Linked DNA regions of Homo sapiens: region 1 is linked to region 2. Evidence: fine-mapped expression QTL. A gene starts in region 2. The other region holds a variant in brackets. All regions are shown on one strand. Distances are from middle to middle.

Region 1 (4,392 bases), 35 kb after region 2:
GTTAACATTGACTTCTGCATGGAGTGTGGAGCTAACCCGATAGTATTCAAGGAATACCTCCCTAGACCCAATTACTCTTTTTTTTTTTTTCTTGAAATGGGGTCTCACTGTGTTGCCCAAGCTGGTCTTGAACTTCTGTACTCAAGCAGTCTTCCCAGCACAGCCTCCCAAGTAGCTGAGACTACAGGCACATGCCACTGTGCCCAGCTGACCCTGTTACTTTTTTTTTTTTTTTTTTTTTTTGAGATGGAGTCTCATTCTGTCACCCAGGCTGGAGTGCAGTGGTGTGATCTTGGCTCACTGCAACCTCCACCTCCTGGGTTCAAGCGATTCTCCTACCTCAGCCTGCCAGGTAGCTGGGATTACAGGCACCTGCCACCACACGGGCTAATTTTTGTATTTTTAGTAGAGACGGGGTTTCACCATGTTGGCCAGGCTGGTCTTGATCTCCTGACCTCATGATCCTCCGCCTTGGCCTCCTGATGTGCTGGGATTACAGGCGTGAGCCACCGTGCCCGGCCCAATCCTGTTACTTTTGTTTTAAACATTTATTTATTTTTTAGAGACAGTGTTTTGCTTTGTACCCAGGCTGGAATGCAGTGGCTTGATCGTAGCTTACTGTAACCACAAACTCCTGGGCTCAAGTGATCCTCCTGCCTCAGCCTCTTGAGTAGCTAGGACTACAGGGGTACACCACCATGCCTGGCTAAAAACAAATTTTTTTTATTATTATTATTATTTTAGAGATGGAATCTTGCTGCATTGCCCAGGTTGGTCTTGAACTCCTGGACTCGAGCAGTCCTCCCACTGTGGCCTCCTAAGTGTTGGAATGACAGGCATGAGCCACTGTACCTGGCACTGTTAGTTTTGATAGACCTTGATTTTTTATTTTATTTAATTAATTTTTTTTGAGACCGAGTCTCACTCTGTCATCCAAGCTGGAGTGCAGTGGCATGATTTGGCTCACTGCAACCTCTGCCTCCCGGGTTCAAGCGATTCTCGTGCCTCAGTCTCCCAGGTATCTGGGACTACAGGCACGCACCACGCCTGTCTAATTTTTGTGTTTCTAATAGAGATGGGGTTTTGCCATGTTGCCCAGGCTGGTCTTGAACTTCTGGCCTCAAGCAATCCACCTGCCTCAGCCTCCCAAAGTGCTGGGAGGTGTGAGCCACCACACCTGTCTTATTTTATGTTTTTTTAGAGATGAGGCCTCAATTTGTTGCCCAGGCTGGTCTTGAACTCCTGGGCTCAAGCGATCTTCCTGCTTTGGCCTCCCAACGACCGACATGAGCCACTGAGCCTGGCTGACCTTGATTTTATTTATAGAGATAGTGAAGTTCTTCCCTGGTAGATTCAAACACTTCCCAGAAAGACCTGGGACATCGTGGAAAGATGTTAGACAAACTTGTGATCTGATAAACTTGAATTCAATTTTCAGTTCTGCCATTTTCAGTCACAGTTGAGTGTATAAGGGCCATTCTTTCCTTCTCTTCCATTTATGTCAGAAGAAAAGAATGGCATCTTCCTCTCGGGACAGTTGTGAGGACTAAGTGGCCTATGCATAAGCATGTACCTTCCCCAGAGTGTATGTTTAATGTATATTCCTTCTCTACTTTTTTCTCTTCTGGAAATTTTTAATGGTTTTCAAGTACTGTAGCTTCTGGTAACAAGCAGTGAACTTAATGTTAATGCTATGAGCCTTGGATTATGCTTTCTCTTTCCTGAAGTTATTTATGCCTTAAGGAAGAGGAACCTGTCATTGAAATAAAAACATTTACCTTGTAGAATTATTTGCAGTGATTTGAAAATATTTGGTTAAAGCACTATCACTACTACTTAGGAGAAGAGCCAAACATGGGTTAACTGTCAGCCTTTCATTTGTCATCTGCCCTGTAAGCCCAACAGTGTAGTATCTGGAAACAGAAGGGATTATGAATATTTTTCCTATGTGAGACAGTGTACAGCAAGTAATATCCAGAGGCACAATTCAGGATTAAAATTTGGAATTTTGTGTGACTGTGTTTTTTATTTTGAAACGTAGACTCTTGAGCTGTGGAGGAAATTGGTATCGACCGCTAAACAGTCATGCTACTTTGCTAGACAAATATTGGACCAAAATTCACCTGGATAACCTGGATAAGAGAGAACTGAATGAGGTACGTGGGTCTTGGAAAGTATCAATGC[T/C]GGCCAGGTGCAGTGGCTCCCGCGTGAAATAGGAAATAGTATAATAAACCACCAGAACCCTCATCAACCTAAATTTTGCAGTCTGTGTGCTAGTATTTTACTGTATTTGCTTCATCTGTTATTTTTTCTGGGCTAATATATTTGAAAGCAAACTCCCAGCATACATCTCTTAAAATTTAATGGCATTTTCATATATAACCACAATAACATTATTATACACAATAAAATGAACAGTAATTCCTCAGTATCATTGAATTCTTAGATTATATTCAAATTTTCCCAGTTGTCTACAGAGGATCATTTTACTAAGTTGATTTGAAGTAATGTCTTTCACACTTAATGGACATTTTGATCTAGGCATTAATGAGAATTGAGGTAAATCACTTTATAGGTTTTCTACATTGATTCAGTTTCTAGTATTGTGGTTATCCTAGATCAGTAAGAAGTATATTACACTTGACTCCGTTCATGCCCCACTTCCCTTTTATGTCTCACTTGGAAGATTTCCCTTCCCCAGTGCTTTATCTAGGAGAGTGGCAGACAAAGCATTGTCAGTGGTCATTCAGACATGGAAGAGATGCTTTTCCCTTTATTGATGTAGGTATATAGGTAAATATGTGACACCAAACAAACTTCAATCTTTTATTTTTATTTTATTTTATTTTTTTTTAAACAGTTTCGCTCTTGTTGCCCAGGCTGGAGTGCAATGGCGTGATCTTGGCTCACTGCAATCTCTGCCTCCTGGTTCAAGCAATTCTCATGCCTTAGCCTCCCAAGTACCTGGGATTACAGGTGCCCACCACCACTTTTGGCTATTTTTTTTGTATTTTTAGTAGAGATGGGGTTTCACCATGTTGACCAGGCTGGTCTCAAAACACCTGACCTCAGGTGACCTGCCTGCCTTGGCCTCCTAAAGTGTTGGCATTATAGGTGTGAGCCACTGTGCCTGGCCACAAACTTCAAATATTTTTTCCTACATTTTCTTTTCTTTTTTTTTTTTTTGAGATGGAGTCTTTTTATGTCGCCCAGAACAGTACTCTGTGGCACGATCTTGGCTCGCTGCAACCTCCGCCTCCCATATTCAAGCGATTCTCCTGCCTCAGCCTCCCGAGTAGCTGGTGCATGCCACTATTGGGGTAACCCACCCCCAATATTACAACATAGGTTCTTTCTATTTTCCATAAGTGTTGGCTGGCTGAGAAATAAAGAGAAAGAGTACAAAGAGAGGAATTTTACAGCTGGGCTGTCTGGGGTGGCATCACATATTGGTAGGACCGTGATGCCCACCTGAGCTTCAAACCAGCAAGTTTTTTAAGGGTTTCAAAAGGGGAGGGGGTGTAAGAACAGGGAGTGGGTACAAAGATCACATGCTTCAAAGGGCAAAAAGCAGAACTACTAATAAGGGTTTATCAAAGATCACAAGGCAAAAGGCATAAAGCAGAACTACTGATAAGGGTCCAACAAAGATCACAAGGCAAAGGGCAAAAGCAGAACTACTGATAAGGCTCTATGTTCAGCGGTGCACGTATTGTCTTGATAAACATCTTAAACAACAGACCGGTCTGACCACAAATTTACCAGGGCGGAGTTTTTTCCCCACCCTAGTAAGCCTGAGGGTACTGCAGGAGACCAGGGTGTATCTCGGTCCTTATCTTAACCGCATAAGACAGGCATTCCCAGAGCGGCCATTTATAGACCTCCCCCCCGGGAATGCATTCCTTTCCCGGGGTATTAATATTAATATTCCTTGCTAGGAAAAGAATTTGGCAATATCTTCCCTACTTGCACATCTGTTGATAGGCTCTCTCTGCAAGAAGAAAAATATGGCTCTTTTTGCCTGACCCTGCAGGCAGTCAGACCTTATGGTTGTCTGTCCTTGTTCCCTAAAAATCGCTGTTATTCTGTTCTTTTTCAAGGTGCACTGATTTCATATTGTTCAAACACACATGTTTTATGATCAATTTGTACAGTTAACACAGTTGTCACAGTGGTCCTGAGGTGACGTACATCCTCAGCTTATGAAGATAACAGGATTAAGAGATTAAAGACAGGCATAAGAAATTATAAAAGTATTATTTGGGAACTGATACATGTCCATGAAATCTTCGCAATTTATTTTCCTCTGCCGTGGCTCCAGCTGGTCCCTCCATTTGGGGTCCCTGACTTCCCGCAACATGCCACCATGCCCAGCTAATTTTTTAATTTTTA
Region 2 (4,392 bases):
GCCTCCTGGCTGTTTACATTGTCTTCTCTTCTAATCCCAAACTCAGGCAACCACTAACCTGTTCTATTAATTTAATCACCCTAGAGCTGTTCATCTTCCTGCTGCTGCCCAGATGAAAGTTCCGGGATTTCCCTTAACTTTAAACACTTAAAAGTAAAATAATCCCGTGGATTAGGATTACGATCGACAGGGTTATTTTACTTTTTCTTTCTGTGCTAAATCTCTTATTTCCTGGATCCCGTGTCGTCTTCTTTCTTGGTTTTATCCTCCTTTTTCAGGGCGCATCTCTTTCAACAGATTCCTGAGAATAGTTGCCAGGGTGCATTATCACTACATAACTACATTTTTTTTTTTGTCTTTTTCTTTTTTTTGAGACAGAGTTTCGCTCTTGTCGCCCAGGCTGGAGTGCACTGGCACGATGTCCGCTCACTGCAACCTCCGCCTCCCGGGCTCGAGCTATTCTCCTGCCTCAGCCTCCTGAGTAGGTGGGATTACAGGCGCCCACCACTATGCCCAGCTTTTTGTATTTTTAGTAGAGACAAGGTTTCACCATGTTGGCCAGACTGGTCTCAAACTCCCGACCTCGGGTGATCTGCCCGCCTTGGCCTCCCAAAGTGCTGGGATTACAGGCGTGAGCCACCACGCCTGGCCCCACTTAAAAAAAAAAAAAAAAGACGGAGTTTCGCTCTTGTTGCCTAGGCTGGAGTGCAATCCCACGATCTCGGCTCACCACAACCTCCGTCTCCTGAGTTCAAGCGATTCTCCTGCTTCAGCCTCCTGAGTAGCTGGGATTACAGGCATGCACCACCACACCTGGCTAATTTTTGTATTTTTAGTAGAGACAGGGTTTTACCATGTTGGTCAGGCTGGTCTCAAACTGCTGACCTCAGGTGATCTGCCCGCCTCGGCCTCCCAAAGTGCTGGGATTACAGGCGTGAGCCAAGGCACCCAGCCCTAATTTTTGTATTTTTAGTAGAGACAGGGTTTCACCATGTTGGCCAGACTGGTCTCCAACTCCTTATCTCGTGATCTGCCTGCCTTGCCTTGAGCCACTGCGCCCAGCCCACAAGTGCACTTTTAATGTTATGGACTCTACTATTTTTTATGACTTCCAGAATATGCTATAACTTACACCCCATAGTTTAATATTCCCAATTGAACATTTTCTTCCAATATCTGTATTAAGAAAACTGCAAGGGGTGTCTTTGTCACACTTAGTGAGGATTTCCGCAGGCTAGAGTCCTACAAGGGGAATTGCTGGGGCAGAATGTTAACTAGTTAGGTATGAGCAGAACAGGAGAGCGCTCCCCACCCCACACATACCAGGACTATTGGGTGACAATCAAACGATGGTCAGGCGGTTCTTAACTGTTTCTCTAACGTTCACCGGGGCCAGCGAAAGGCAGTCTCCTAATAGAAAACACCTGAAACTGATCAGTAGCTTCCCAGTAAGATCTCAGGAGTGGGGAGAAGCAATGCAAGTTCCCCAAAGTATGCCAACATATAAAACTTCAAGTCAACAGGTCAAGCTGCGCACTTGGTTTCTCAAGTCGCCTGCTTGGCAGTCTTCCAAGTTGTACTTTCCTCCTTTTCTTTCCGTCCCGTTCTAAAGCTTTTTGATAAACTTTTACTTCTATTCTGAAACTTGTCTAGGTCTATCCTGCCTTATGCCCTTCGTGGAATTATTTCTTCTGAGGAGGCAAGAACTAAGGTTACTGCTGACCCCTACCTATACAGGGGGTAACTGCCACCGCTAACAAGAAGGGGAGAATCAGCTTTTCTTTCTTTTTTTGAGACAGTAAAAGTCTGCTGTGTCGCGCGGCTGGAGTGCAGCTGCACGATCTCGGCTTACTGTAACCTCCGTCTCCCGGGTTCAAGCGATTCTCCTGCCTCAGCCTCCCGAGTAGCTGGGACTACAGGCGCGCGCCACCACGCCCGGCTAATTTTTGTATTTTTAGTAGAGAAGGGGGTTTCACCATGTTGCCCAGGCTGGTCTCGAACTGCTAACCTCAAGTGATCTGCCCTCCTCGGCCTCCCAAAATGCTGGGATAAAGACATGCGCCACCGCGCCCGGCCGAGAATCAGCTTTTCTCTCACATCTGATCTTTCCGTGTGTTAAGGCAGAAGCAAGGCACGGTGGGCTGAGACTCACACGCCCCCTCTTTCCTCCCCGGCCTAACGCACTCTTCTTTCTGTCCCACCACGTGCTGTGTTCGCGAGTCCCCATCACTCCTGCATCCAAACCGACTAGATTTTTGTTTCCATTTCCCTCCCGGAAAAGGCGGGACAGCGAAGACTGGCGTTTCCGCCGCTGAGGGGCTGAGGCCGGGAGGGCGCAGCGTAGCCGTCCCGAGCTGATGACGTCAAACGCCGTGTGCTCACCCACGTGTGGTGCCCCTCTCCCGGTGTAGGCGCTGGAGCTGAGGACGCCTTTCCTGCGGGCGTAGTTGCTGGCTGCTCGGGCACTGGGACCTCGGCGGCTTGGGGACGCTGGCCGCGAAGTAGGGAGCGCAGGTGGCCGCTCGGGGTGAGGGCCCTGGGTCATGGAGCACTTCTTGCTGGAGGTGGCAGCCGCGCCGCTGCGGTTAATCGCAGCCAAGAACGAGAAGAGCCGCAGTGAGTTGGGCAGGTTCTTGGCCAAGCAGGTAAGACGTGAAGGGAGAGGGAAAGCGCCGGAACGACTGGGTCGCCCCACTAGTAAGCTTCCTGCGCTCCCCCGCCGATACTCGCCGCTTTAAGTGGGGAGTGGTGCAGCCTCAGGTCAAGCTGGCCCCCTCCTGTGGGCTGGCGCAGGTCGTGGAGGTTTCCGAGCGTGTTTGAGGCGATTGGAAGGAGTCTTTTGTTTTTATCTGGGGGAGCCTTCCAGTACCCTTCCCATCGCCTCTCACCCCTATGCAAGCGCTTTGGCTGCTTGTGGCAGAGGTGGCCTTCCCAAAGGAATGTGGTTTGTTTTTCTGAAATTGAGGTTGCGTTTCTGCCGTTTTGACAAGTGTACGTATCACCTAAGTGTGCGTAGTGCAGCCACTCCTGTTAGTTTGGGGAACCATCGACAAATACTGATTGCATTCCTGCTGTGCGTAAGGAACGGTGTGGCGCTGTGAGAAAGTGGATAGATAAATTCGTTACGATCTCTGCCATGAGGGAAATTTGCATCTGTTTTTGGAGACAGTTCGTAAACACTTACAACAGCTGAAGTACAGAGCAAGACAGCTCATACTCACTGTAACTAACTATACAAATTATAAGGTTAATTAGAGTTTTCTGGGAAATAGGTCTTCGGGCTTTTAAGAACCTTCTCATTGACTCCTTCTATCTGAGTTGAAGACACTTTTTTTTTTTTTTTGAGACGGAGTCTCGCTGTGTCGCCAGGCTGGAGTGCAGTGGCGCGATCTCGGCTTACTGCACCCTCCGCCTCCCGGGTTCAGGCGATTCTCCTGCCTCACCCTCTCAGTAGCTGGGATTACAGGCGAGCGCCACCATGCCTAGCTACTTTTTGTATTTTTAGTAGAGACGGGGTTTCACCATGTTGGCCAGGATGGTCTCGATCTCTTGACCTCGTGATCCACCCGCCTCAGCCTCCCAAAGTGCTGGGATTACAGGCGTGAGCCACGGGACAGGTGAGTGTGGTCCCAGGTACTTGGGTCCCAGGTGTGGCTAATTAAAAAAAAAATTTTTTTTTTGTAGTTGTAAGGTCCCCCTTTGTTGCCCCGACTGGTCTGGAACCCCTGGGCTCAAGTGATCATCCCGCCTTGGCCTCCCAAAGTGCAGGGATTGTAGGAGTGAGCCACCGTGTCCGGCCTAAATTTTTTTTTTTTTTTTTTTTTTTTTTTGAGACGGAGGCACGCTCTGTCGTCCAGACTGGAGTGCAATGGCCCACCCTCTCAGCTCACTGCAACCTCCGCCTCTCGAGTTCAAGCGATTCTTCTGTCTCAACCTCCCGAGTAACTGGGATTACAGGCGTGCGCCACCATGCCTGGCTAATATTTTGTATTTTTAGTAGAGACAGGGTTTCACTGTGTGGGTCAGGCTGGTCTCAAACCCCTGATCTCAGGTGATCCACCCGCCTTGGCCTCCTAAAGTGCTGGGATTACAGGCATGAGCCACAGCGCCCTGCCCTGAAGTATTTTTTTTGATGTATCTCAAGCCCAATTGTTCTGGGGAGTGGGGCCAATTTTGCTCCCAGGGACAAATCTGGAGACCTTTATGGTTATCACAACTATTCATTATGGGGGTGCTACTAGCATCTAGTGCATCAAGGCCAGGGACGCTGCTAAGCATTCTGTTATGTATGGGACAACCCCTTACAACAGTTATCCGTCGTAAATGGCAGTGGTGCAAAATTAAGAAAGAAACCCTGCCCCAGACTGGTTGTTTACTTTCTGCTCAGGGCTT

What was found. PIP is the estimated chance that this variant, and not a neighbour inherited with it, causes the effect.
Region 1: its variant is the best candidate, but not a certain one, in a credible set for the expression of MDN1 in whole blood (TOPMed, PIP 0.54).

The regions. Positions count from the first base shown.
Region 1 is chr6:89,782,776-89,787,167 of GRCh38, reverse strand. It overlaps MDN1 (midasin AAA ATPase 1), which reads left to right. Exons shown (of 102, transcript NM_014611.3): 9 at 2,042-2,156. Among named protein-coding and RNA genes, the nearest start is that of MDN1, 35 kb to the left of the region's middle. The variant T/C (reference allele first, on the strand shown) is at 2,185.
Region 2 is chr6:89,817,759-89,822,150 of GRCh38, reverse strand. It overlaps MDN1 (midasin AAA ATPase 1), which reads left to right and starts at 2,357. Exons shown (of 102, transcript NM_014611.3): 1 at 2,357-2,645. The coding sequence starts at 2,544. RefSeq lists enhancers at 1,420-2,039, 2,040-2,659, 2,314-2,703, 3,280-3,899, 3,900-4,392.